Homo sapiens: one gene and its partners. The protein of the gene in region 7 interacts with the protein of the main gene of each other region in a biochemical or structural test. Each region holds a gene or a part of one and is shown on either strand. Other genes may lie near its edges.

Region 1 (3,915 bases), on a different chromosome or scaffold from region 7:
AGATTTCACTTCGTTTGCTCCATCACCTTCCCTCCCTCCTTTTCCCCGAGATCCCCCTCCGGTCTTTTTTCTTCCCAAAACATTTGACAGCAAGCTATAGATGTGATGCCCTGTCACCCACCCCGGAATACACACACCTCTTGTGTGTTTTCCAAAAATGAGGACAGCCTCCTGTGCAACCACCATATAACCCCCAGATTGGGAAATCAACGTTGATAATTACTGTCCAGTCCACAGACCACATGCAGTTGTCCCAACACTACTCTTTTCTTCTTTGCGGATCCAGGACCCAATTCAGGAACACATCTTGCATTGAGTTGTCATCTCTTCATTTTCTCTCCAATCTGGAATCGCTTCCCAGCCTTTCTTTGTCTTCCATGCCCTGAACAGTGATACATTCAGTAATTTGACCCTCAGCCTGGGTCTTCCTGGTGTTGCCTCATGCCCACGTGTTCTTGGCAGGCCCGCCGCAGAGCTCTGCCCTGGTTCATGGTACCCCATAGCCAAAGTGCTGGGGTTGTTCACTTTTACCCCTGGTCATGTTGGTGTCCACCAGGTCTCTCCACCATAAACTCACCATTTACCCCCTTTAAGTGATTGTATTTTGTGGGAACGTAGTCCCAGATTATGTCTATAACCTGTCATTTGTCAAACTGAAATCCACCAGCTTTGGCCTCCATTCACAGTTCCCCCTGCGCCAGCCATTGCTCTGATGTTGCTAAATGGTGGTTCTATGACTCCCTTGTTCCCCTCATTTCTTTTAGCTGGCATTCTGCTCTGTAGAAGAGCTTTATCTTCTGCCCTATTTATGTATTCTTTTTTTTTATCAGTATGGACTTAGAGATTTCTGTTTTATTCATTGGTTATAATTAATTACTACTATTATCTGTTCTGTTGCTTGGATGGTCCCAGATTTAGCCAGTGGGAACCCCTTCAAGCTGGCTTTCATGTCCTTCTCACATGGCCCTTTTTGTTGGTTTTTTAAGAACTTTCTTTCTTTCTGGCATGAGATGTGCCAGGCTCATCTTGTACTTTTTGTGATCCAGCCCCAGAATCAACCATTTCTCCAAGAAGCCTCATTGTTTTCAGAGAATGGTATTTTTAAAACCCAAGATCTGGATGCTAGGTGTGCTAATTGCTACTTGGCTCTTTTGGGACACACTAGGAAATACATATGTATTATATGTATACACACATCTAAATATGTCACTACCTGCTCTATGTGTATATTAAAATATATGAGTTCAGGCAGAGTTCACGGGCGCAGTGGCTCACCCCTGTAATCCCAACACTTTGAGAGGCTGAGGCAGATGGATCACTTGAGCTCAAGAGTTTAAGACCAGCTTGGGCAACATGGCGAAACCCCATCTCAACCAAAATATATGAAAAAATTGGCCAGGCACGGTGATGCATGCCTGTAGTCCCAGCTACTCAGAAGACTGAGGTGGGAGAGTCGCTTGAGCCCAAAGATGGAGGTTGCATTAAGCCAAGATCACACCATTGCACTCCAGCCTGGGCAATAGAGCAAGACCCTGTCTCTAAAAAAAATAATAATAAAGTAAAATAAAATATATGAGTTCATCCTGATAGATCCACTTCCACCTAAACACCTCAGACTCCTCTTCCTTCTTCTCCTTCCTGCTCCCTTTCTGTTAGTAAACACCTGGGCACCTTCTCCAACAATGAGGGACTTGGCTCTCGATATCCTTGATGTGTTAACGTATTTACTCAGAGCACTGTCCATGTAGCCACCCCCCAGTGGTGTGGCTGCCTCCTCTGCCTGCCACCTCCACAGCCTACTTTGCCAGGTGTCCTGTGTCCATGGATGTCCCATGTCCATGGATGCCATCAGGCCTCTCTGCCCCTGCATCACCCACCCCGTTCCCTCCAGGCAGCCCCACCACCACCACCACTTCCTCCTCACTGGGAAGAGCAGCTGGGATGCAGCCTAGAACTTGTAGGGAGGGCCTGCTGCAGCAGCTGTTTAGGGCTAGTAGCCAACCGGTCCAGTCAGTGAGCTGTCTAGATCCTCCCCCATCCTGTCTTCGGTGGGGCATAGAGGAATCTGTGCCCTGGACATGAACGTTGTCTGCTGTGTCTCACTGCCCCTGCCTCCTTGGTCTGCAGCCCTTCATGTATGGGGACTACATTGCCTATGACTGCTGGCTGGGGAAGGTCTACGACTTGAAGAACCAGATCATCCTGAAGCTATCCAACGGCGCCAGGTAGAGTCTCACCACCAGAGAGCCATCGGCTTGGGAAGGATAGCCTCTTGGAAAGAGGGGAGGAGGAGGGTGTTTCCTCCTGGGGACAGTGATGACAGGTTTGATCAAGGGCAGTGACAGATGTTGCAGGCATCCAGGGCCTAACCCTGTACCGTTCTCCTTATCTGCCGTGGCCTATTTCTGTTGCTCAGTTTCTGATCTGTCCTGGCATGGGGAGAAACGTTTTCACTGAGGATATCTGCTAGAGGCTGATGCTTTACTTGAGGCACTGTGATGGTGCTGAGCAAGCACTCCAGTGGCACTTGGGGTCTTGTTCGTTGTGGGAGAGTTTCTTGTACTACCTCGGGCTGAGTTGATGGTAGAAGACGAATTGTGCTATTTAGGGCATGTGGGCGCATTGGCATCTCAGAATCGCAACTTTTTGGTACTCACTGTGTCCCCTGGTGGAGACCAAACCTCTGTTCTCTGTTTTAGGTGCTCCATGAACACGGAAGATGGCGCCAAGCTCTACGACGTCTGCCCGCACGTCAGCGACTCGGTAGTGTGCTCCATCCAGGCCAGCACCCTTCTCTGATTGCTCAGTCCTCTGGAAGGAGGACTTCGTAGCAAAGACCTGGACCCAGCTAAACAGAGCGGTTTCCTAGAAAAGGGGCGGGTGCGCGCCAGAGGGTCTAAAAGTTTGGGTATAGGCAGAAAGTATTAGAACTTTTTTTTTTTTTTTTTTTTTTGAGACAGAGTCTCACTGTCGCCCAGGCTGGAGTGCAACGGTGCGATCTCGGCTCACTGCAACCTCCACCTCCCGGGTTCAAGTGATTCTTTGGCCTCAGCCTCCCGAGTAGCTGGGATTACAGGCGTGTGCCACCACACCCGTCTAATTTTTGTATTTTTAGTGGAGATGAGGTTTCACCATGTTGGCCAGGCTGGTCTCGAACTCTTGACCTCGGGTGATCTGCCCACAGCCTCCCAAAGTGCTGGGATTACAGGCGTGAGCCACCGCGCCCGGCAGTATTAGAACTTTTATTTGCATTTTTGGTAGCTTTTTTTTCTCATCCTTTAAGGTTCCACTTTGTCTCTCTCAGTACAGGATGATGTGTTAGTTACAATAGTACATGGACACACACAGCAAACAAGTAGATATACAGGGGGTGCGTGAGCAAACAGGTTTCAGGACCACTGCTCTCTGGAGTCTTATTCCTCAGAGTATGAGCCCTTGACCAAGGAGCATGGAATGCATCACCTATGTTTGAACAAGGGCGCCAGATGACCTCTGCGGACCCAGGGTTTGGGAAGTGCTGATGTGGAGCCACAGGACTTGTTTTAGGGCGTGTGGGGCGTGTGTGTGAGTGGGCTTCTGCAGGTGGGCAGCCAGCGGGCACAGGCGTGGAGAGCATGGTCACCCATGGAGACACCGCTCACGGGGACTTTCCTTTGGCCCCACATCCCGCAGGGTCTCTTCTTCGATGATTCCTATGGCTTCTACCCAGGCCAGGTGCTCATTGGCCCTGCCAAGATCTTCTCCAGCGTCCAGTGGCTGTCAGGTGTCAAGCCCGTGCTCAGCACCAAGAGCAAGTTCCGAGTGGTGGTGGAAGAGGTGGGTCCGGGCCCAAGGGTAGGAGATGGAGTCCTTGACCTCCACACCCTGGAGCTGAGCTGCTGCCCCTTTCCTTCCTGCTCTTGAGGGTTGAGCCCC
Region 2 (4,420 bases), on a different chromosome or scaffold from region 7:
CCTTCCCCCAGTCCCTCCCAGGCTTCTTTGAACCTGAAGTCAGATATTTTTTCTCCACACCCCCCACCCCCTGGTTTTCCCCACCCAGGGCCTAGGGCTGGAGGCCTGGGCCAGGGAGGTGGGGGAGGGAGAACGGGGCCTACCGTGGTATTAGATGTCTGAGTTTTGGTTGAGAGGGGAGCAAGGAACCTGATGTGCAGGTTCCATAGTGGAGGGGGCCCAAAGCGGGTGTCTTATCACTCTGTTTCAGCAAAGGTTGGGAAACTGAGGCCCAGTCAGTCCAAAGTCTGGTCCCTTGAAGGGGAAGTAGGGACCAACCCCTTAGTCTGTTAGATGAGGAGAGTCTGGAGTCTGATTCTGGAAGACGGAGGGGTGGGGGGATGGGGGGGTGGGGGGATATAGCACGGAGGCCTTGTCTGGCAGTCTACTCTTGAAGATGGGGTGAAATTTGGCAGGCTGGGCAGATGGTGCCAGGCACCCAGGCTGCGGGGTGGCTGGATTTGGCCAGTATCGGGATGGGAATGCCTAGGATTCTGGATGGATCGGGGGAAGGCATAAGGGAGCAGCTGGCCATTGTGCTTATGGCTGTTGATGCATTGAGGGATAGCGCCACACACACATTCAATAAATTTGAGGAGCTGAGAGGGTGACTGGCCCCTGAAGGCACAGTGCCAGAGGTCTGTGGAGAGGGGGTCAAGCACCTGGGTTCCTGAAGAACATGGAGGTGTGGGAGTGATTCCAGACAGCTGGGATGTGCAGAGCCTGAGAGAGTGCCAGGGAGCGGGTTGGGAGTTGAAAGTTGGGTGTGGTGGCTCACGCCTTTAATCATGACACTGGGCGGCAGAGGCGGGAGGATTTCTTGAGGACAGGAATTCAAGACCAGCCTGGGTAACATAGCAAGGCCCCATCTCTACTAAAAATAAAAAAACTAACAGGGCACAGTGGTCCAAGCCTGTAGTCCCAGCCACTTAGGAGGCTGGAGCAGAAGGATTGCTTTGGCCCAGTAGATCGAGGCTACATTGAGCCATCATTGTACTCCACTGCACTCCAGTCTGGGCAACAAAGTGAGACCCTGTCTTAAAAAATAAAAATAAAAAAAGTTTCTGTGGGGGACCTGCACTGAGGTCCTGGAGGGGCGCCAGTTGTGTCTCCCGGTTTTCCCCTTCCACAGACACCATTGCCACCACCATTAGGCAAACATCCTTCGCCTCAGTTTCTCCCCCCACCTCCCTCTCCTCCACCCATCCAGGGGGCGGGGCCAGAGGTCAAGGCTAGTGGGTGGGACTGGGGAGGGAGAGAGGGGTTGAGTAGTCCCTTCGCAAGCCCTCATTTCACCAGGCCCCCGGCTTGGGGCGCCTTCCTTCCCCATGGCGGGACACCTGGCTTCGGATTTCGCCTTCTCGCCCCCTCCAGGTGGTGGAGGTGATGGGCCAGGGGGGCCGGAGCCGGGCTGGGTTGATCCTCGGACCTGGCTAAGCTTCCAAGGCCCTCCTGGAGGGCCAGGAATCGGGCCGGGGGTTGGGCCAGGCTCTGAGGTGTGGGGGATTCCCCCATGCCCCCCGCCGTATGAGTTCTGTGGGGGGATGGCGTACTGTGGGCCCCAGGTTGGAGTGGGGCTAGTGCCCCAAGGCGGCTTGGAGACCTCTCAGCCTGAGGGCGAAGCAGGAGTCGGGGTGGAGAGCAACTCCGATGGGGCCTCCCCGGAGCCCTGCACCGTCACCCCTGGTGCCGTGAAGCTGGAGAAGGAGAAGCTGGAGCAAAACCCGGAGGAGGCAAGTGAGCTTCGACGGGGTTGGGGTGTGGGGAGGTGGTCATGACAGGGCAGCCTGATGGGGAAGTGGTCACCTGCAGCTGCCCAGACCTGGCACCCAGGAGAGGAGCAGGCAGGGTCAGCTGCCCTGGCCAGGGAGGGGTGTGTATCAACTGCTGGCAGCCCTGGCAGGCAGGGGCCAGGTGGGAAGTGGAAGCTGGATTTCGAAGAGACAACTGCCGGTGAGGGCAGAGCAGCCTGGGAGAGTCGGAAGCTGGCCCAGGCTGGCCTTTGCTCTGGCCCAGCCCTTGTCAGGGTCTCTCACATCTCCTAGGCCTGCCCAGGGTCTGGTCACTCATTACTGGCCCAGCACCAGACCCAGCTTGGGGTTGGTTTGAGCCCCTTTTCCCACCCTTAGTCCTGCTTGAAAATTTGACCCTTATCAGACCCAAGATTTTGGCCTTAGGGTTAAGCATAGCCTGAGGGTAAAAACAGTGCTCATTCCAGGATTATTGTTCCTGAAAGTCTAGGGTGTGACTCGTTTCTGATAGGATCTCCTGTTTGGGCTGTGTGTGTGCGCGTTGTGAGCTGGGTTTACCTCCAGTCAAGTATAGGGCTTGTCTTCCCCGGATCTCTGCCTCAGGCCAATGACTGGCCACTGTGTTAAGGTGCACACCCTGGCACCCCTTGTAGAAAGCTGGATTTTGATTGACTTCAGCCTCAGTTCCAAAGTTGTAAACAAGAAAAATGGTGAGAGATTTCTCCAGGCCATTTGCAAATATAGAGCTGCTGCGGGATTGAAGGCATCCAGCCCTGCTGAGGACTATTAAAGATGTATCTTCCAGTCCTTCAAGGCGACAAGTGTAAGCAATTAGAGATTAAATACTAAGCCTTGAGACCTCACAGAAAGGTGTGACTGGTTTCTGGAGTGACCGAGAAGCCCCAACCTCTTCGCAGGAGGTCACTGCTGAGCCTTGAATGATAATGGCTGGCAATTGTGGTCCACTTCCTAAGTGCCTGGCTGTGTGCTCCGTTTATACATCATTATCTCATTAACCAGCACAAAATCTCCTAGGGGGAGGTATTATTATCCTATTTAACGGGTTTTAACTGCTAAATGATGAAGCGAGGATTTGGACCAGTGTTTATTCCAAAACCCCAAAACAGAATTTGGAAAATCCAAGATAGCAGAGGGCATTTATCAGTTTGAGTTATTGGCTGAGCAGAAGTTGGGGATGAAAACAGCCTATTTGAAATTGATATGATCAAGCACCATTGAAACACTTCCTTGAGGCTTCAGAACTACAAAAAGGCCTTGTTTTTTTCTCACTAGCTGTGCACCTCTGTCTGCCGGCAGCCTCATATGGCATGCCCCAGGGCTCAGTCCTTCAACCTCTGCTCTATCTACCCTTCCTTCCTCTCACCCACCCTCAAGGCTTAAATGCCATTTAGACACCAGATGACTACCGCGTTTTCTGTCTCTTGTGATGGCTCCCTGAACTGCTCCACCCTGATCACCCAGTTGCTCAAGGCCAAACCCAGTCATCCTCAGTTTCTTTCATGTCCTACATCCTATCCTTAAGAAACATCCTGAATCAATCACAACCTAACCCTGGCCTCAGCCACCATCATCTCTGCTGGGATTACCGCAGTAGCTTCTCAAATTATACTGCTTCCTCCCTACTGTCTGTGGCCAACACGTCAACTAGAGTCAGTGTTTTAAAAGGTGTGGCCAGGCACTTTGGGAGGCCGAGGCAGGCGAATCACCTGAGGTCGGGAGTTCGAGTCCAGCCTGACCAACATGGCGAAACCCCATCTCTACTAAAAATACAAAATTAGCTGGGCGTGGTGACGCATGCCTGTAATCTCAGCTACTCAGGAAGCTGAGGCAGGAGAATCGCTTGAACCTGGGAGATGGAGGTTGCGGTGAGCCGAGATCGCGCCAGTGCACTCCAGCCTAGGCAACAAAAGCGAAACTCTCAAAAAAAAAAAAAAAAAAGGTGAGGCTAGGTGCGGTGGTTCACACCTGTAATCCCAGCACTTTGGGAGGCCAAGGTGGACAGATCACTTGAGGTCTCCTGACCAGCCTGGCCAACATGGTGAAACCCCATATCTACTAAAAATACAAAAATTAGCCGGGCATGGTGGTGGGTGCCTGTAGTCCCAGCTACTCAGGCGGCTGAGGCAGAATAGCTTGAACCCAGAAGGCGGAGATTGCAGTGAGCCAAGATCACGCCACAGCACTCCAGCCTGGGCGATAGAACGAGATTCCGTCTTGGTGGGGAGAAAAAGGGTGAGAGATCATTTCGCTTGGACTAAAACAAAGTCACTATGTCTGCAACAGGATCTACCTAGCCACCAGACCAGCTTTGGGCTCTGGAAGGCCCACTTCAGGGCCTTGCCACATTAGACTCTTGTCCTTTGCTCAAACAATCACCTTCTCTGTCTTTAAAAGTGTCACCCTCCTCCATAATCTCCTTCCCTCCTTTACCCTACTCCTATAGACTGCTTTATTTTTTTTTTAATTTTTGAGATGGAGTCTCACTCTGTCCCTCAGGCTGGAGTGCAGTGGTGCGATCTTGGCTCACTGCAAACTCCACCTCCTAGGTTCAAGCAATTCTCCTGCCTCAGCCTCCTGAGTAGCTGGGATTATAGGGGAGCGCCATGATG
Region 3 (4,367 bases), on a different chromosome or scaffold from region 7:
CCGTATTCTTGGTATATAAACCTGGGACAAAGAAAAACACTCTGAACGATTAAGGAAAACTTTGGGACTCTTCATTTCCTTGAAAGCCTTTGAAAACCAACTGACTCCCAAACAACCCGTGTGTGTGTGTGTGTGTGTGTGTGTGTGTGTGTGTGTGTGGCGATTGGGAAATCTGTGGTCAGACCCTCGGGCGAATGAGGAGAAGCTCATCCTCGTTTCTCCGGGCCCTCCTCCCAGGCGTCCGTCCAGGCAGGAAAGCCTCCCGAGAAGGGTTCCAAGTTTTGTGCCAACTCCCCTGAATTCTCGTTCCCCCTTCTGTGAAGTAGTGTTATTTAACACAAGGAAAACTGACCCTAGGCTCGATCCAGAATCTAACTCCCAAATGGGTCCTCAGGCTTAAAAAATACCTTCGCCCACAGCCTCTGTCTCCCCTGAAGAAAACGTTTTCCGTTCGGATGAGGCATCGGCCACGGGCAAGCAAGTGGTCCCGCGCCCCCGTCCCCTACCCAGGCGGCCGGCCTGGCTCCGTCACCGCCCGCAGCGTCCGCCCGGGGCCCGCGCGGGAAGAGGGTCCCAGCCCCACATGCTGCGGGGGCAGCCCCGGGACGCGCAGACGCCAGCGCCGCTGAGGGCCGGGGCCGGGACCGGCCGCGCGGCGGGGGCTTCCAGAGCGGCCGGTCACGCTTCCTTAGGTTTCAAGTTTCTAACTTGCTGAACATTTCAGATTTTAACAGCAAAAGCGGCTGACGTCCCCGCGGGCAAGCGGCCTCTCGGGGTCTGCAGCGCCCCAGGGCATCCGCGCCGCCAGCCCCACGCGCGAGCCCGCGAGGCCCCCGGGCCCCCGCACGTCCCGAGGCTCTGAGTCTGGACGAACGCAGGCCGCGTGGAGGGGCCGGCGACCCCTGCCCGAGAGCCGTCCCCTCCTGGAGGGAGCGAGCACAAGGCGCCCGCGGGACCCGGCCCGAGTGCCCGAGCGTGGAGGGGCGGGCGCGCCCTCGGCGGTGGGGCCGCCCGCAGTGCCCCCAGCGCCCGGGAGGGGGCGCCCGGCGGAGCGCAGGCGGGCGGGCCTCGGGCGGCGGGCGCCCCTGACGTCACCGGCCCGCGGTCGCCAGGGCAACGGCCTCATCCCGCGCGCGTCAGAGCCGCCAGTCTCTTGGCAACCGCCCGATCTCCCGCTCTCCCTCCGCCCGGCGCTCGGCCGCGCGTCGCTCTGGCGTCAAAGCGACGTCAATGGGCGGCCCCCGCCCGGGCGGCGGGGGCGGGGCAGGGGGCGGGGACTACGGGGGGCGGGCCGGGGCGGGCCGGGGCGGGGCCGGGCGCCGCGTGCGGCGGAGCGCGGCGGCTCCGGGCTGACATGCGGCGCGGCCCCGGAGGCAGCAGCAGCGGCGGCGGCAGCCGGAGCAGTAGGCACCCGAGCAGCGCCAGCGGCCGAGCGGGCGGCTTCCTGGCCTGGGCGCTCCGGTGGCGGCGGAGGTGAGGCGGCGGCAGCGGCGGCAGCGGCGGCAGCGGCGGGCTCCGGGCGGGCGGAGGTGGCCGCCGTGGGGGCTCCGCGCGGGCGCCGGGCCGGGGCTCGGGGTTGCAGCCACCGCGCAGGGTCCCTGGCCTTGCGCGCGCGGGGTTCGCGGGCGGGGTTGGCGGCCTGGCCGCCCTCGGGCTCCCCTTTGTTGGGGGGCCGGGGTAGGAGTGAGTCCGCGGGGCTCAGGGGCTGGGGAGCCGGGGGTCAGGTTGGAGCCGACCGCGGGCGGAGATACCGGGTGTGGGGGGCGGGTCCGCGATCCCCGAGGTGCCTGGGATGTCGGGGGTGGGGACCGGACGGATCGCGGGCGGCGGGGGCAGGGTGTGGGAGCGGGGCAGGGGACGGTCCTGGGATCCGGATCGAGCCGACCTCGGGTGGCAGGGCCAGGTGTGGGAGCGGGTCCGCGCCCAGAGGTGCTAAAGGGGTCGAGGGTGGGGACGGAACCGACAGCGGGCGGCGGGAGGCGAGTGTGGAATCCCGGCTCAGGGGGTCCCGGGATCGGGACGGAACCGGACTCGGGCGGCAGGGGCCTCTATGAGAGCGGGTCCGTGCGCCCCGCGGGGCTCAAGAGGGTCGGGGGTCCGGGTGGAGCGGGCGGCGGGGGCGGGTCCACACCTCCCACGGGGCTGGAGGGGCCCGTGGATAGAGTGGGGGCGACAGGCGTGGGAGCAGGTCCCTGCGTCCCGTGGGGACTGGGGGCTCCGCGGGCACGGATGGAGCCGACCGCGGGCGGCGGGGGCGCTGGTGGGCTCTGAGCTCTGTGCGGCCCCGCAGGTGCGCGCGGAGCCATGGTTATCATGTCGGAGTTCAGCGCGGACCCCGCGGGCCAGGGTCAGGGCCAGCAGAAGCCCCTCCGGGTGGGTTTTTACGACATCGAGCGGACCCTGGGCAAAGGCAACTTCGCGGTGGTGAAGCTGGCGCGGCATCGAGTCACCAAAACGCAGGTGCGTGGGGGCGGTGGGACCCAGCCGGCGGGGCCTCCCCACTGGACCCGGGGCGACCCGACCTTTGGCGGGTGGACCCCATGCAGATTCACTGCTCCAGGCTTGATTGTCGTGGTGGGTAAATAGTAACCGTTTTTAGTTCGGTAAAGAAAAATAATGCTTTATATTATGTTGCTGCATAATTTGGACATATATTGGGAGAAAGCAGAGAGGATAATAGCAAAAAAAAGGACCAACCTAAGATTGCAGTGGTTCATGGACTCAGAGCTAAACCCTGTAAAGTGAGCCTGCAAATACTTAAGTCACTTACTTAACTCTGATTATTTTAAATAACATTAGTGGTTACTTTGGTTATGTTTTCCCAACTTCTTGTGACCTTCTGGAGACAGAGTGTTGAGAAATTAACTTGCAAAAAATGAAATGTGTAAATTAGGTTGAGGGTTTCTTTTCTTTTTTTAAAAAAACCCACAGAATATCCTTTTTCTTTTTAAATTTGTAGGTTGCAATAAAAATAATTGATAAAACACGATTAGATTCAAGCAATTTGGAGAAAATCTATCGTGAGGTTCAGCTGATGAAGCTTCTGAACCATCCACACATCATAAAGCTTTACCAGGTAAGGGGTCAGCTTGCCTTTCTCTGCTAATCCTGGCAAATGTGTTATATTTTATTTCCAACAGCATAAGTCTGCAATTTCTGAAGGTGGCTTCCCTTTTGGGGAGTGTGTGGAAGTTGGGCATTTGGTTGTATAAGGTAAATAGATTGATTTTTATAGGCTGTGCAGATATATTTACAATTATTTTATTGCTTTTGGATCATAATTGAGATTTGCTTCATTAGAATTTTATTTAGTATCCTAACCTGATCCAGTTTTAAATGTGTAGAAGTCTGTTGTAAATTTGCTTTACTATGAAAACAGACAAACTTATCTGTAGGTATTGCCACAGGTCACGCATTTAGTATAAAAGGACAAATTTGAGTGAAACTGGAAACTTCTGCCTTTGCAGATAATTATTAAACTTTAAAGCCAGCTGCTCTTACTGGTTTTCATTAGTTTATTTTTGCAAGGACAGTAGTGAGCATTTGTTTTCCCTATTTAAACTCTTCCATGAAAAACGGAGAGATGAAAATACTTTTCCATAGTAAGAGCAAGGAGCTTGTCATTTAATCCATGCTAGGAACATGGCTTGCCCTGTCTCTCTGTTGGTTTATTTTGTGACTTAATTTTTGTTCTCATGTTGAAATTAATAAATTATATCATCAGGAAATAAGTACTAATTTAATTAGAACAGCAAAGCAATCATTTACACCTCCCTAATGACAAATGACCACTTTTGCAAGGTGAAATCAAGTCTTCTTGCAGAAGAAGTTCTTTGCAGGTGCTATTTCATCCATTTGTGTTGGGTTGAAGTTCCTCGTAATGATTCTTATGAAATGGAATGTGAGATGACTCTGGGATGTTGTTGTGTGTGTTTGTGCAATTAGGACAGCTCGGTGTACAGTGTGGTAGGAGAGAGAATTATGATTCGAAATTATCCCCCAAAAGCCTCTGCACTAGATTGAAAATAAAAGTAGCAGTATTGGTGGAGCTTACGACAGTTTGCTCAGTGTCTTTAAGCACAGAATTCATGCCGTGTGCGCCTGGTTTGTGTTTTGTTTCTGTTGTCATTTTTAAGTTGTGTGCTCCATGGCCACTGGTGTACTGCCTGTGCAGCGTGCCCAGCCCATTTCCTCAGGAGTGGGCTGAGCTGGTTTTGTTTTTGACTTTGCTCAAGGGCTGAACCCTAATGGTAGTACCTTCCTTTTCTTCCTGTTCTTCTCCTTTGCCCATTGTGTGGAATTAGCTCCGTTAAAGAAACAAATTGCCCATGTGTTTGCTGCTGAGGTCTTTTCTGGAGGTGCATTTT
Region 4 (3,915 bases), on a different chromosome or scaffold from region 7:
TTCACTGAGTTGCTTCTGACCTCTGAAGCCAAAAAAAAGGCAGTAGATGATTTTACCTTCTCAGCCTCTTTAGTCACCTTCCTTTGTAGGGTGTCTGATAACTTCTGAAGGATGAACTGGTCCTGTGGGTTTGTGTAAAGCCTGGGCAGTAACATCAGTTCTGTTTTGCTTCATAGGAATACCTCCACGGGCCCATTCCCGAGATTCTAGTGATTCTGCTGATGGACGGGCCACACCCTCTGAGAACCTTGTACCCTCATCTGCTCGTGTGGATAAGCCCCCCAGTGTGCTGCCCTACTTCAATCGTCCTCCTTCGGCCCTTCCCCTGATGGGTCTGCCCCCACCACCAATTCCACCCCCACCACCTCTCTCCTCAAGCTTTGGGGTCCCTCCTCCTCCTCCTGGTATCCACTACCAGCATCTCATGCCCCCACCTCCTCGATTACCTCCTCATCTTGCTGTACCTCCCCCTGGGGCCATCCCACCTGCCCTTCACCTCAATCCAGCCTTCTTCCCCCCACCAAACGCTACAGTGGGGCCTCCACCAGATACTTACATGAAGGCCTCTGCCCCCTATAACCACCATGGCAGGTAAGGACTATTGTTCCTTTCAGATTTGAGCCAGGGTAAATAAGTGTATTAAGCATTTTATTCTCCCTGAGAAAGTGAGCACTGAATCCTTGTTCTTTCCCTTATAGACATTCTGTTATCATAGCATTGACTCCTGGGAAGTAGTACCATGTCCTTTATACCCCTTTTTAAGGTGCTTAATTAAATGCGGGAGCAGGTGTTATGAATGCTACAGATGTCTAGCATTGTTCTGTGTTATGCCAAAATTACCAAAGTGTTGTAGAGTACAGTAAAAATAATAAGGGATGTGAGCAATCAAGGATGGTATTTTCTCTGTACAGCCGAGATTCGGGCCCTCCACCCTCTACAGTGAGTGAAGCCGAATTTGAAGATATCATGAAGCGAAACAGAGCAATTTCCAGCAGTGCCATTTCCAAAGCAGTATCTGGAGCCAGTGCAGGTAACTCAGTGCTTACCTTTGCTGCCTTCTCCTTAACCTTTACTTTTTTTTCCTGATTTTGTCATTTCTACTGGCAAAAGTTCAACAAGATAAAGTTGGAGTACTGTAGATATCAAGAGCGGCATACTTTGAAGAGCAATATGTAACCTGATTTCTTGGCCTTGGGGAAGCTCCGGCAGTATTACTTAGTCTGTATCTAGGCCTGCCCTCATGAAAACCAACTTAATGCCTAGAATATAAATAATTAATACCATCTCGATGTGGTGTTTGCTGTAGAGTGAAATTCCTGCCTTGTGGAAATCTCCATCTCAGTGGTTGATCTTTAGATCTAGTGTCTGTGTAGTAGACCCAATACCAGATATAGACCCTGGGTCTTCTTTAGGAATGATGTTTTGACTGGATAATGTGTTTTTTTGTTTGTTTGTTTTGAGAGGGAGTCTTGCCCTGTCGCCCAGGCTGGAGTGCAGTGGTGCAATCTTGGCTCACTACAGCCTCCACCTCCTGGTTTCAAGCGATTCTCCTGCCTCAGCCTCCCAAGTAGCTGGGATTACAGGCACTTGCCACCACGCCCGGCTAATTTTTGTATTTTTTTGTAGAGACAGGGTTTCATCATATTGGCCAGGATGGTCTTGAACTCCTGACCACAAGTGATCCGCCTGTCTCGGCCTCCCAAAGTGCTAGGATTACAGGTGTGAGCCACCACGTCCAGCCTAGATAATGGTTTGCTATGAAATCTGATTACATTTAGGAGTCTAAGCAGAGCTGGTAGGTAGCCTATCCTAAAAAGAGGCAAGTCTGTAGATGTCATCTTAAGGCATGTTATGCCCTTACAGCTAACTTTTGCCCTGCTCTCATTATTAAGTGGGTAGAACCAGCAGCCATGATTCTGAAAGCCCTGAGCATAAGATCTTTAGTTTCTAAAAGAAGAGGCTACAGGAAGTTTCAGAGTTCTGGTCCGGTTTTCACATCGTGACATTAGCCATATTCACTTCCTTCCTGTGAGTTTCCTACATGAATGTAAATGTCTGTAGATTATCAGATCTCCTAAGAAATAAGTTAGCCCTAAATATTATCATCTGCTTTCCATCAGTTTTCATCTTTGCATCATCTTGCCAAACTTGAATCCACAGAGAAGGTTAAAGACAGAAAGTACATATGTTCCCTTCATTTTTTTCCCACCAGAAAAATCTACATTGACATCTAAATTAGTCTTTTTTAGGCCAGGTGCAGTGGCTCATGCCTGTAGTCCCAGCACTTTGGGAGGCCAAGGCCGGTAAATCACTTGAGGTCAGGAGTTTGAGACCAGCATGGCAAAACCCCATCTCTACTAATAATACAAAAATAAGCCAGGCATGGTGGCACATGCCTATAGACCCAGCTACTTGGGAGGCTGAGGCACGAGAATTGAGAATTGCTTGAACCCAGGGCGTGGAGGTTGTGGTGAGCCGAGATTGTGCCACTGCACTCCAGCCTGGGTAACAGAGTGAAACTGTGTCTCAAAAAAAAAAAAAAAAAAATTAGTCTTTTTAAATTAAAAAGTAATATATACCCATGGGTTATATGGGTTAAATACACAGAACAGTATAAAGAAAGTACTCATTGTTCCTTCTTCCTCATCAACCCTTTCACACTAAGATGATCAATAACTGAATCTTGATCTCCTGTTGTTCTCATTCCAGTCATTCAAACCACAAATACTTATTGAAGATACTACAAAAACAGGCAAAAATTCCCTGCCAGGATGGAGCTGATGTCTTCATATTCTTGTGCCTCCACTGGACAGTTTCTCCATAGTTTCTGTTCTTGTTGCCTTGCACAGAGGAAGCTGCCAGGCTTCATTTTCACTGGACCCCTGCCTGAATTCATATTTTCTTTGTATTAACTTTTGTCCTTAATGCTCTTGACTTAGCTTGGAAAAGCAAAGTGTAGGTACCCGCCCCATGACCACTATCCCTGAGCCAGGCATTACTCAGAGTTGGGAAATGAAAGGCCTAGTTTTTTATGACAGCATAAATTTTTTTTTTTTTTTTTTGAGACGAAGTCTGGCTCTATTGCCCAAGCTGGAGTAGTGCAGTGGTCTGATCCCGACTCACTGCAACCTCTCCCTCCCAGATTTAAGCAATTCTCCTGCCTCAGCCCCCCAAATAACTGGCATTACAGGTGCATGCCACACTGCCTAGCTAGTTTTTGTATTTTTAGTAGAGACCGGGTTTCACCATTTTGGCCAGGCTGGTCTCGAACTCTGGCTTCAAGTGATCCGCCCACCTCGGCCTCCCAAAGTGCTGGGATTACAAGTGTGAGCCACTGCATCCAGCCATAATTTTTTTAATGTATACATATACTACGCATACATGTTTTATGTAAATATCATATATATACACACATACATCTGATGGTAGGTTAAAAATAACTTGTAGAAATACACATTATTTAGAAAGTCTCATGAGGTACAGTGGCTCATACCTATAATCCCAGCACTTTAGGAGGCCCAGGCAGGAGGATCACTTGAGGCCAGGAATTCAAGACCAGCCTGGTCAACATAGTGAGACCCCATCTCTACAAAAAATTTTTGAAAAATAAGCCAGGTGAAGTGGCATGCAGGAGGATGGCTTGAGCCCAGGAGTTCAAGGATGCAGTGAGCTATGATCATACCACTGCTCTTCAGCCTGGATGATAAAACAAGACCCATCTCAAAAACAAAATAGTCCTCTATACAAGGACCATCAACCAATAAGACCACCTTTTATAGTTTATATTCCTCCAGAATTTTTTCTATGCATATGACAATTTATATAATTTTTATTGTTTTTACAAAAACAGGATATGGTTTTGAAACTTGCTTGTTTCAATTAGTATATTCTGGACACCTATTATATCAACATATA
Region 5 (3,915 bases), on a different chromosome or scaffold from region 7:
TGAGCTAGTTTTCTCACCAAGTAAATGTAATGGAAAACTGTATGATTCATTCATAAATGCAAACACAGTTTTGTCTTTATGGTCTTTTTATTGGTAGTGTAATATGTGGACAACTTGAATTTAGCATAGTGACAGACTATGCAGAAAGGGTAGGCTCAACCAGGTGTGGTGGCTCACACCTGTAATCACAGCACTTTGGGAGGCCGAGGTGGGCGGATCACTTGAGGTCAGGAGTTCGAGACCAGCCTGGCCAACATGGCAAAACCTTGCCTCTACTAAAAATACAAAAATTAGCCAGGTGTGGTGGCACTCACCTGTAATCCCAGCTACTTGGGAGGCTGAGGCAGGAGAATTGCTTGAACCTGGGAGGCAGAAGTTGCAGTGAGCCAAGATTGTGCCACTGAACCCCAGCCTGGGTGACAGAGTGGGACTGTCTCAAAAAAAACCAAAACAAAACAAAACAAAAAATGGCCAGGCAAGGTGGCTCATGCCTGTAATCCCAGCACTTTGGGAGGCCAAGGCAGGCAGATCACAAAGATCACGAGGTCAAGAGATTGAGACCATCCTGGCCAACATGTGAAACCCCATCTCTATTAAAAATACAAAAATTAGCTGGGCGTGGTGGCGTGCACCTGTAGTCCCAGCTACTCAGGAGGCTGAGGCAGGAGAATCGCTTGAACCTGGGAGGCAGATGTTTCAGTGAACTGAGATCGTGCCACTGCACTCCTGCCTGGCGACAGAGCAAGACTCTGTTTAAAAAAAAAAGCACGGTGTGGTGGTGCACATCTGTAACTCCAGCTACTTGGGAGGCTGAGGCAGGAAAATCACTTGAACCCAGGAGGCAGAGTTTGCAGTAGGCTGGGATCGCGCCACTGTACTCCAGGTTGGGTGAGCAAGACTGTCTTAAAAAAAAAAAAAAAAAAAGGCACCGAGGTGGGCGGATCACAAGGTCAGGAGATCGAGACCATCCTGGCTAACATGGTGAAACCCCATCTCTACTAAAAATACAAAAAATTAGTTGGGCGTGGTGGCACGTGCCTGTAGTAGTCCCAGCTACTCGGGAGGCTGAGGCAGGAGAAACCCGGGAGGTGAAGATTGCAGTGAGCCGAGATCGCGCCACTGCACTCCAGGCTGGGCGACGAAGTGAGACTCTGTCCAAAAAAAAAAAAAAGAGGCTAGGCTTATAGGTTCCCCTGGCATTATTTTATTTTTTTTTTCATTTTTGCCTTTTGAAACTGAGACTGTCTCAGACAGTATGGAAGCACTATTTTAGAAAGACCTAAGTAGGCCCATACTGAGTGCTGAGAAACCTGTTGCGTGTTTCTCTCTCTGAGGACGTTAACTCCCGTTCATCCATAGATGAACGCAGATCTTCTGCGGTAGATGTGTGCATGAATTTTGCCAATTCATTTCAAGTATTTTGGGATACTTGGATTTGAATTCAATGTAAGTGGGTGATGATGACACTGCCATGTAGGTTCAAACAGATTACAGAATGTTTAGTTCTGGACTTGCCTCATTACCTGCTAAAGAAGTTGCCCACTTGTGAGCATCACCAATACTCTGTATGATAGTTTGATGACATTATAGTGCAGATTTTGGAATGGTATACTTTTGGATAAATTCTCTCAGGATTATGGAGGAATATTTTGATGAGCATAAGAATTTCATCTCTGATAGGTCAAACCATATTCATGTTAAATTATTAGATGAAGTAATGATCCTGGAGGAAGGAATGAATAGTGCTTATGTGGCTTTTTTGCTTATTTTTCAGTTTCAAAAGAAGTTATATCACAGAATGCCAACATAACCTAAATGTCAAAGTTTCTTAAGTTATATGCTGTATTTGTGGCCTACATGGTCAGTGATCAAAGAAAATTTATAAAAATATTAGGAAGATGGGTAAATTATTCCTTTGAAAACTTTAATTGTGGTAAAATACACATAAAATTTACCATGTTAACCACTTTTAAGTATACAGTTTAGTGGCATTAAGTACATTCACATTGTTGTGGAACCAGTCCATCTCCAGAACTTTGTCACCTTGCAGAACTGAAACTCCATATCCATTAAACAATAACTCTCCATTCCCCCTCCTCCAGCCCCTGGAAGCCACCATTCTACTTTCTATGTATTTGACTACCGTAGGTACCTCTCATAAGTGGAATTAGACAGGATTTGTCCTTTTGTGACTGGCATATGTCACTTAGCATAATGTCTTCAGAGTTCATCCATGTTGTAGCATGTGTCAGAATTTCCTGCCTCTTTAAGGCTGAATAATAGTCCATTTTATATATGTACCACATTTTGTTTATGCATTCATTTGTTGACGGATGCTTGGTTTGCTTCTACCTTTTGGTCATTGTGAGTAATGCTGCTATAAAAAACATGAGTCTACAAATATCTTTCAAGTCCCTGCTTTCAGTTCTTTTGGATATACCCAGAAATGGAATTGCTGGGTCATACGGCAATTCTATTTTTAAGTTTTCGAGAAACTCCCATACTGTTTTCCATGGCAGCTTCACCATTTTATTTTCCCACCAACAATGCATAAGGATTCCAATTTCTCCATATCCTCAACATACTTGTTATGTTCTCTTTTTTGTTTTTGTTTTTTTGATAGTAGCCATCTAATGGGTGTGAAGTGGTATCTCATTGCAGTATTGATCCCTATTTCCCTAATAATTAGCGATGTTGAGCATCTTTTCATGTGCTTATTGGCCATTGATATTTTCTTTAGAGAAAATGTGTATTCATGTTCTTTGTTCATTTTTGAATTGAGTTTTTTGTTGTCGAGTTGTAGGAGTAATTTCTTCATGATGTTTACATTTTCAACTTTTTACTATGGAAATTTCAAACACATACAATAATAAAGTAGTGTAAGAAATTTTATGTACCATCACCCAGCTTCAGCAATTGTGAATGAATGGCCAATATTATTTCACTTATACTCACCACATTATTTTGAAACGAATCCTAGAAATCATATATTGATAAATATTTCTATGTGTAACGCTAAAAGAAAACAAATGGTATGATATTTCAAGAAGATATCACATGAGGAATATATCATGAGAGCTCTCTTGTAATCTGTGAGGAGTATGGAAACAGGATTTGTCAGTGTCGGGCTGTGGATCCATAACTAACTGTCCTTTGTATTGATTGGGCTCACTCTTGCCAAGCCTCATGCTTTGTTTTTGTAGCAGTGATAGATTCCTGTTAATCTATCCTTGTTTTCTTACCTGATCCCATGGGTGACCACTTGTTAGGCAAGATTTATTTGGCTTAATCATACTATCTGTGTCCTGAAAATAGGGCAGTGCTTCCTGGTTTGGGCAGAAACCAAGGCCCAGTTGAACTGCTCTAGGGAATTTTGCTCTAAGCTGATGCCACCAGTAGTTTAACTGCACATAACTTCAAATTGTTTTATCCTAGACATTAATTATATTTCATAATTTTATGGTAGATTATAAAGTAAATCCTACCATGAGAATAACTTCATATTTTTATTAAGAAAGAAAAAAAGTCTCCAAGAGATTCAAGTGACATCCTCAGATTTATTTGTTTTTAGGGCTTTAAAATAATTATTTTGGTTTCTTAAAATGTTCTTGTTTTACCTTTAAGCAAGTACAACAGCTTAGAAGAATTATATTCTTTTTTGTTTGTTTGTTTTGAGATGGAGTGTCTTTCTTCTTGCTCAGGCTGGAAGGCAATGGCGCGATCTCGGCTCACTGCAACCTCCGCCTCCCAGGTTCAAGCGATTCTCCTGCCTCAGCCTCCTGAGTAGCTGGGATTACAGGTGCCCACCACCACGCCCAGCTAATTTTTTGTATTTTTCGTAGAGATGGGGTTTCACCATGTTGGCCAGGCTGGTCTTGAACTCCTGACCTCAAGTGATCTGCCCGCCTCGGTCTC
Region 6 (3,915 bases), on a different chromosome or scaffold from region 7:
GGTTTCACCATGTTGCCCAGGCTGGTCTTGAACTCCTGAGCTCAGGCAATCCGCCTGCCTTGGTCTCCCAAAGTGCTTGGGATTACAGGTGTGAGCCACCATGCCTGGCCTCTATCCACTTACTTTTAATGTACATGTATGTGTCTTTATATTTAAAGAGGGTTTCTTGTAGAGAACACATAGTTGGGTCTTGTTTGTTGATCCACTCTGACAATCTGTCTTTTAATTGGTGCATTTAGACCATTGATATTCAAAGTAGTTATTGATATAGTTGGATTGATATCTACCATATTGTTACTGTTTTCTACCTGTTGCCTCTGTTCTTTGTTTCTATTTTTGTCTTTACTCTTTTTCTGCCTTTTGTGATTTTCACTGGACATTTTATATGATTCCATTTTCTCTCCTTTCTTGGCATATCAGTTATACTTTTTTCTTTTTGAGACAGAATCTCACTCACTCTGTCGCCCAGGCTGGAGTGCAGTGGCACGATCTCAGCTCACTGCCACCTCTGCCTCCCAGGTTCAAGTGATTCTCCTGTCTCAGCCTCCTGAGTAGCTGAGATTAAAGGTGCATACTACTATGCTCATCTAATTTTTGTATTTTTAGTAGAGACGGGGTTTCATCATGTTGGCCAGGCTGGAACTCGACCTCAAGTGATCCACCCACTTGGCCTCCCAAAGTGCTAGGATTACAGGCGTGAGCCACCGCGCCCAGTCCAGTTACACTTCTTTTTTTTTTTTTTTGAGACGGAGTCTCACTCCGTTGCCCAGGCTGGAGTGCAGTGGTATGATCTGGGCTCACTGCAAGCTCTGCCTCCTGGGTTCATGCCATTCTCCTGACTCAGCCTCCCAAGTAGCTGGGACTACAGGTGCCCGCTACCATGCCTGGCTAATTTTTTGTATTTATAGTAGAGATGTCATTTCACTGTGTTAGCCAGGATGGTCTCAATCTCCTGACCTCGTGATCCACACGCCTTGACCTCCCAAAGTGCTGCGATTACAGGTGTGAGCCACCGTGCCCGGCCTTATACTTCTTTTTTACTTTTTTTCAGTGGTTTCCCTAGAGTTTGCAACATACATTTACAACTAATTCAAATCCACTTTCAAATAACACTATACCATTTCATAGGCATTATGAGTATCTTAAAATAATCCTAATTCCTTCCTCCTGTAAACTAAAAACAAAATCCTAAATCCTCCAAACAACTGAATGGACCCCCTCTTCACCAAGGGGACCCCAGGGAAACCTGAAAAACTGAGTGTTGGCCATGACGGGAAGGGAGGTGAGAGATGCCTCATTATACTCCCTCCCTTTTAGAGTTTTAGGTACAACTGACCAGCATTAATTTTAAAATAGAGATTACAGGACTGACAGAATGAACTCTTTGTGGCAATATCAAATTAGGAACAAGACAATGCAAGGAAAGGGTTAAATCATGCCCTTCAAACCATAAAAAAATTTTTTTTTAATTAACCCCATATAATGTGGTATACTTTCCAAACTGACTCTGGTATAGCATCACATGACAGATTGCAGACTCCCTTACCTTAAGCATTCCTTTATACTGACTTCAAGTCTTAAGACAGAGCTGAACTCTTTCAACCAGCTGCTAACTAAAGAATACCTAAAACCCACCTGTGACTTGTAAGTCTCTGCTTTGCCATGTCCTGCCTTTTCAGGCTGACCCAATGTATACCTTCCGTGTATTGATTTATGATTTTTACCTACAATTCCTGTCTTCCTGAAACATATAAAACCAAATCATAACCCAACCACCTCAGGCACACTTTCTCAGGACCTCTTGAGACTATTCTCCCGGCCATGGTCATTCATATCGGCACAGAATAAACCTCTTTAAAATATTTTGCAGTTTTTTTCTTTCTGTTAACATTCCTTTCCCTTGTATCATTGCTGTTATTAATTTCAAGTATATATAAGCATACCTAATTAAATACATTGTTGCTATTATTCATTTTTGAACAAACTATTATCTGTTAAATCAACTAAGAATAAGACAAATATGTTGGGTGCAGTGGTGCATGCCTATAGTCTCAGCTACTCAGAGGCTGAGGCAGGAGGATTGCTTGAGCTCAGGAGTTTAAGACCAGCCTAGGCAACTTAGCAAGATCATGTCTCTTAAAAAAAAAAAAAGAAAGAAAGAAAAACAAAGTTTTAGGAGGCTGAGGCAGGAGTATCACTTGAACCCAGGACGCAGAGGTTGCAGTGAGCCGAGATCGTGCCATTATACTCCAGCCTGGGCAACAGAGTGAGACTCTGTCTCAAAAAAAAAAAAAGAAAAGAAAAGAAAAGAAAAAAAAAGTTTTTATTTTACCTTCACTTATTCCTTCTTGGATGTTCTTCCTTTATGTAGGTACAAGGTTCTGACCTATGTTATTTTCTTTTTCTCTAAAGAACTTCAAAAGTTTCCTGCAAGGCAGGTCTACTGGCAATGAATTCCCTCAATTTTTGCTTGACAAAGTCTTTATTTCTGCTTCACTATTGATGGATAATTTCACAAGAGTGTTCCTTTTGTAGATTCACTCTTCTTATCCTTCCCTTCAGAAATATTCTTTGACCAACTATTGGGTCCCAGGTACTGCACTAGAGCTTTACTTCTAGTTAATTCCCACAGCAATTCTGAGAGGTAGGTAGGTATTATATTCCTAGATGCAAACTCAGAATTCAGAAGGTAAAGTGATGAGACTGAAGGCACACAGCAAGTAAGTGGCAGAACCTAGATTAAAACTCATTCTTAAAACTTTGGCTTCCTTCTCTTTTCTTTAATGGATTCAGTTACTTCTTCTCACCCACTCACCTTTATCAATTTACATTTCAGGATAAAAGTCTTCATGTTGGCACTCAATGTGCCTTAACAAGAAGATGCCCACAAGAAGGGTTTGATCATCGGGACAGCAAAGTGTCTCTTCAAGAGAAAAACTGTGAACCTGTGGTAGGTTAAGATCCTTCATAAGGGTATTTTCATGAATGGCTGTTTTTAACTCAAGTGAATACAATTATTTCCATTTAAAAAGCAAGGACAATGTGAATGTACTCATTGCCACTGAACTATATACACCTAAAAATGGTTAAAATGGCAACTTTTATGTGTATTTTATGAGAATAAAAAATAAATAATAATAAAAAACAAGGGAAGTACAGATATTTTCTTAATTGTGTTGTCACATACCCAGTGTTTCCAGGGTCAATAATGAGAGCCCTACATGTAAGATTCAAAGGAAGAATTTAGTCCTGGATACAATATTCTTTTATGTTTTTAGTTATATTTGCCTTTTTAATGGATGCAGATATATACAGAGGGAAGGGATAAAGTACCTATTATTTATTGTATAGAGCTGTGCTGTCTGATGGCTTAGCCACTAGTCACATGGTGCTATTGAACACTTAAAACACAGGAGTTTGAAATAAGATGTATTATAATACATATCATATTTCAAAAATATTAGTATGTAGAAAAGAAGATAAATGGTTCATTAATGATTTTTATATTGATTCACCTTGAAATAAATATTCTGAAAATATTAGGTTAAACAAAATATTTTAAGATTAATTTTACATGTTTCTTCTTTTAAATGTAGCTACTAGAAATTTTAAAATTACATATGGCTGGGCATGGTGGCTCACACCTGTAATCCCAGCACTTCGGGAGGCCGAGGTGGGTGGATCACCTGATCTCAGGAGCTCGAGACCAGCCTGGCAAACATGGTGAAATCCTATCTTTACTAAAAATACAAAAATTAGCCAAGCGTGGTGGTGCATGCCTGTAATCCCAGCTACTTGGGACGCTGAGGCAGGAGAATCACTTGAACCCGGGAGGTGGAGGTTGCAGTGAGCCGAGATAGTGCCACTGCACTCCAGCCTGGGAGACAAGAGCAAAACTCCATCTCAAAAATAAAT
Region 7 (3,416 bases):
ATGTTGGAGTAGTCATTTCCATTCTTTACATTGTCATGAACTGGATTGATAACCCTCATCTGCAATATTTTCACCCCTAAAATTTTTAACAGGGTTTCCTTTTTTTCTCACGACTATTTAAGTTTAGATTGCTCCATTATTAACTGATTAATGCACTTTGAAGTTCTCTGGAATTAATTATTTTAACTTGGCCTAGCTTCGACTGTCAAGGTGGCTGTTATAAATTTGACTTCATTGGCAGTGGATGAAGCCTAAGCCAGCTGAGTCTCTATCATAGCTGAACCCTGAGGACAGCCTCATAGCTCATGTATCAGGGACTTTTGCCACATTTCAGAGGCATAGCATGAACAAGTAATATTAAGCCAAGAATAAGCAGCAGAACCCTGTTCCATATGGAAAAAAGAAAAACAATTTTTTGTCCCTAATGTTCTTCCTTTTACATCCTGGAACAACAATAAAAACATTTTTTTAAACTTGTCTACTGTAAGATACTGCCATCATAAAGCAGAGACTTACATGAGTGAAAGGGTTGCCTCATCAAGCAGCTCAGTGTAAATGGGGAGGCTAGGCTCTCCCCAGCCCTATGGTTTTTTTATTTCATGTACCCCAGGAAATACTGTGTGGTTTCTAAAAGCCCTGGTTGTTAAAAGTAGGGACTCTGCCTTTTTGTTGGTAGGGAGAAAAAACGCTATTGCTTTGTCTTACAGAGCGAATGTCTGCCAACTACCCGTTCATTATATAAGTCTGAACTTGGTAATATATGGCTAATGAAGATTAAGCCCTCTATAAAGACTTCCTGTTGAGGTGAATTCTCATACTGAAATGTAGTTACCTACAATATTTACTAGAGATTTATGAAATTAAATTAAGAGATAATGTAAGAAAATACATTTTTTTGGTTCTATATAATGCTTCATGATTCATTTAGGGACCTAGAAATATTGTGTGAAAATATATAAATATCACCCAAAAGGCTTTCTGCCCTATATTTTTAAAATACAGAATAGTTATATTTGAAGTAGCCCTGGCCCTAGTTCTATAGGGCTTGGCTATTTAATATTTTTATGGAAGAAGTGTTTAGTTCTGGAAAAGGTAAATGCTTGTATATATTTTTGCAGCCTGGGATCTCCCTACTCCATTTTTTCCTTTAATTTAAGTGGCCACATGTATATGTCTTCCCTGCTGTGTTAGGAAAATGGGGGCTGGATATCCCAAGAATCAGAGGTTATATAAAAATACTGCAAATAGACCGCAGACATAAATATCTACCAAATGCTATCTTAAATTTTGGTCCAAACTGAACATATGGAAATAGATTTATTGTAAGTATTTACTTAGAGCTTTTTCTTAAATCTGAACTAACTTGCTTTTAGAAGTCTTTTTCTTTGTAAGCATTGTAAATGCTAATAAATCCTGTTAATTTTTTTTTTTTTTTTTTTTTTTTTTTACTGCATGTTACATTGAAATAAAAACAAAGTAAAATGAGCAATTGCCTTATTGTTCTGCTCTTTTGCAGGGGGTGGGGGTTGGGGAAGACAGCATTCCACAGCCTGGTCAGGAGGGAAGGACCTCACTTGTTTCATCAAATGGAGTGGTTTAAAACTGATCAAGCAGCTCATAATAATGAATTCCTGCTCTGTCTTTTATTATCTTATGTCAGAGTGCAGCAAAATCTCATTTCATAAGACTTACAATAACTCTATTTAAAATTCAGGTATTGTACTCGGGAGGCTGAGGTGGGAGGATCCCAGGAGTTCAAATCCTGCCTGGGCAACATAGCAAGACCCTGTCTCTTAAAAAAACAAAAAGACATATTCAGGTACTGATTTTTCATCAAGAGATTGACATACCAATGATCAGAAATTTTAGTGAAACTTGACTCAACTATACACAAAGTTCTCATCCTAAATGAACTATTTCAGTCAAGCCCACTCTACCACTTTTTACTTATCTGGTTAATAATCCGAAATGTTACCGGGGTTGACTCACGGAATTAAATTTTTCCTCTATTTTTATATCCTTTCCTGTTGTGGATGTAACTTACCTTTCTAAACTCCTTTAGAGTTAACGACTTCTATTTAGTATTGTTGGTATCTCCAGCCCCCCTCCTTTTTTTGTTTTTCTTTTAGTTATTTACTTTGTTTGTATAATTTGCTTTCATTAACTAAAAATGGAATTGGCAGCACTGGATTGTATATTACTGTATTAAGAGTACCTTTGTTTTCTTGATCTGTTACTTTTAATACTCAGGTAATGCTACAAATATTACAGGGAGTCAAATGCTTTTATAAAGTTCCTTCAGTGGTTGCCTCACTTGCGTTTTCCTACAAGATGTAAGACTGTTTATAATTAAACTTTTTTGGTCCTTCATTTGCATGCTTTTCTATCAGTCTTGGGTAAGGAGGGGTCTCTTTCCTCTCTCCCCGGCCCCACCTTCTGAGACTTATATGTGACCAGGTCACATAGATTTCTGCCTCTCTGCTTTTTTAAGTGGCAAGTTACAGCCCATCTGGATTGTGGTATTGTTCCCAGACCAAATCAAGGGTTGGACTGCTTATTCTCGCAGCCCAATAATGAGGTGCAGATGAACTGAGAAAGGAGGGAGTTTATTTCTGTAACCAGGTATGGGGAGAAAGCCTGGAAATGATCCCAAGACCAACTCAAAACTACAAAGTTTTCCAGAGCTTATTTACATTATAAGCTATATGTCTACATGTGAGTGTACATTCATCTAAAGACATAAGTGATTCACTTTTTTAAATCTATAAATAAGATCTGAGCCCTGAAGACCTTCCTCTGGAGCCTCAGTAAATTTACTTAATCTAAATGGGTCCAGGTGCTGGGGTGATTACCCTTATCTTGTTTCCTGCTAAATCATGGAGGTTTGGGGACTTCCTTCAGACCCCCAGTAAACTTGTTTGTGGAGGCCTTCAGACCCCCTCAATAAGTTCCTTCAGACCCCCAATAAAACTTGTTTAATCCTAAATGGGTTCCTTTGTTATCTTGTCATGCTTCAAGGCCCAGAAAAGGCCTGGGCAAAACCCTTGGTGGCCTTTTGTTACATTCTAGCCTTTGCATAAGGGCCCTCACTCTTTCAGCTTTTAATATTTAACTTAACCACTCAGTGCTGAAACAGTTGTTATGGAGGCCTGCGTTATTGAGATCTGGCCTGCCACGGTACGGGTAGAAAAAAACTAGAAAGAGCTGTTGCAGATGAGACTGGATTTGGTGCCCATGTTGAAGATGAAGATATCTGCAGGGGCCATCAACCAACATAAAGGCCTCCATATGAATTGCTTTTCTGAGACAACTAAAAGACCGGGACCACAGGCATGAGTGCTGAGTAGAGAACCACCAACTAGCTAGCTGTCAAGACTGTTACCAAGACTGTTCTCAACAAGCTGACCTGGTTACCA

The links.
Region 1: the proteins of ITCH (region 7) and UBE2O form a complex in vitro, tested with the Homo sapiens proteins (one study listed by BioGRID).
Region 2: of the proteins of ITCH (region 7) and POU5F1, one has a biochemical effect on the other in vitro, tested with the Homo sapiens proteins (2 studies listed by BioGRID).
Region 3: of the proteins of ITCH (region 7) and SIK1, one has a biochemical effect on the other in vitro, tested with the Homo sapiens proteins (one study listed by BioGRID).
Region 4: the proteins of ITCH (region 7) and CPSF7 form a complex in vitro, tested with the Homo sapiens proteins (one study listed by BioGRID).
Region 5: the proteins of ITCH (region 7) and NDFIP1 form a complex in vitro, tested with the Homo sapiens proteins (2 studies listed by BioGRID).
Region 6: the proteins of ITCH (region 7) and MLANA form a complex in vitro, tested with the Homo sapiens proteins (2 studies listed by BioGRID and IntAct, with this or other methods).

What each region holds. Positions count from the first base shown.
Region 1 is NC_000017.11:76,400,912-76,404,826, reverse strand, and holds part of UBE2O ((E3-independent) E2 ubiquitin-conjugating enzyme), read left to right. Parts: intron 1-2,127; coding exon 2,128-2,225; intron 2,226-2,699; coding exon 2,700-2,763; intron 2,764-3,672; coding exon 3,673-3,816; intron 3,817-3,915. UniProt on the Homo sapiens protein: E2/E3 hybrid ubiquitin-protein ligase that displays both E2 and E3 ligase activities and mediates monoubiquitination of target proteins. Negatively regulates TRAF6-mediated NF-kappa-B activation independently of its E2 activity.
Region 2 is NC_000006.12:31,167,568-31,171,987, reverse strand, and holds the start of POU5F1 (POU domain, class 5, transcription factor 1), read left to right. Parts: upstream 1-1,305; 5' UTR 1,306-1,367; coding exon 1,368-1,772; intron 1,773-4,420. UniProt on the Homo sapiens protein: Transcription factor that binds to the octamer motif (5'-ATTTGCAT-3'). Forms a trimeric complex with SOX2 or SOX15 on DNA and controls the expression of a number of genes involved in embryonic development such as YES1, FGF4, UTF1 and ZFP206.
Region 3 is NC_000021.9:43,424,116-43,428,482, reverse strand, and holds the start of SIK1 (serine/threonine-protein kinase SIK1), read left to right. Parts: upstream 1-1,351; 5' UTR 1,352-1,473; intron 1,474-2,290; 5' UTR 2,291-2,304; coding exon 2,305-2,460; intron 2,461-2,959; coding exon 2,960-3,076; intron 3,077-4,367. UniProt on the Homo sapiens protein: Serine/threonine-protein kinase involved in various processes such as cell cycle regulation, gluconeogenesis and lipogenesis regulation, muscle growth and differentiation and tumor suppression. Phosphorylates HDAC4, HDAC5, PPME1, SREBF1, CRTC1/TORC1.
Region 4 is NC_000011.10:61,412,781-61,416,695, reverse strand, and holds part of CPSF7 (cleavage and polyadenylation specificity factor subunit 7), read left to right. Parts: intron 1-176; coding exon 177-591; intron 592-911; coding exon 912-1,030; intron 1,031-3,915.
Region 5 is NC_000005.10:142,111,628-142,115,542, forward strand, and holds part of NDFIP1 (NEDD4 family-interacting protein 1), read left to right. Parts: intron 1-3,915. UniProt on the Homo sapiens protein: Activates HECT domain-containing E3 ubiquitin-protein ligases, including NEDD4 and ITCH, and consequently modulates the stability of their targets. As a result, controls many cellular processes.
Region 6 is NC_000009.12:5,904,049-5,907,963, forward strand, and holds part of MLANA (melanoma antigen recognized by T-cells 1), read left to right. Parts: intron 1-2,836; coding exon 2,837-2,950; intron 2,951-3,915. UniProt on the Homo sapiens protein: Involved in melanosome biogenesis by ensuring the stability of GPR143. Plays a vital role in the expression, stability, trafficking, and processing of melanocyte protein PMEL, which is critical to the formation of stage II melanosomes.
Region 7 is NC_000020.11:34,509,024-34,512,439, forward strand, and holds the end of ITCH (E3 ubiquitin-protein ligase Itchy homolog), read left to right. Parts: 3' UTR 1-2,750; downstream 2,751-3,416. UniProt on the Homo sapiens protein: Acts as an Acts as an E3 ubiquitin-protein ligase which accepts ubiquitin from an E2 ubiquitin-conjugating enzyme in the form of a thioester and then directly transfers the ubiquitin to targeted substrates.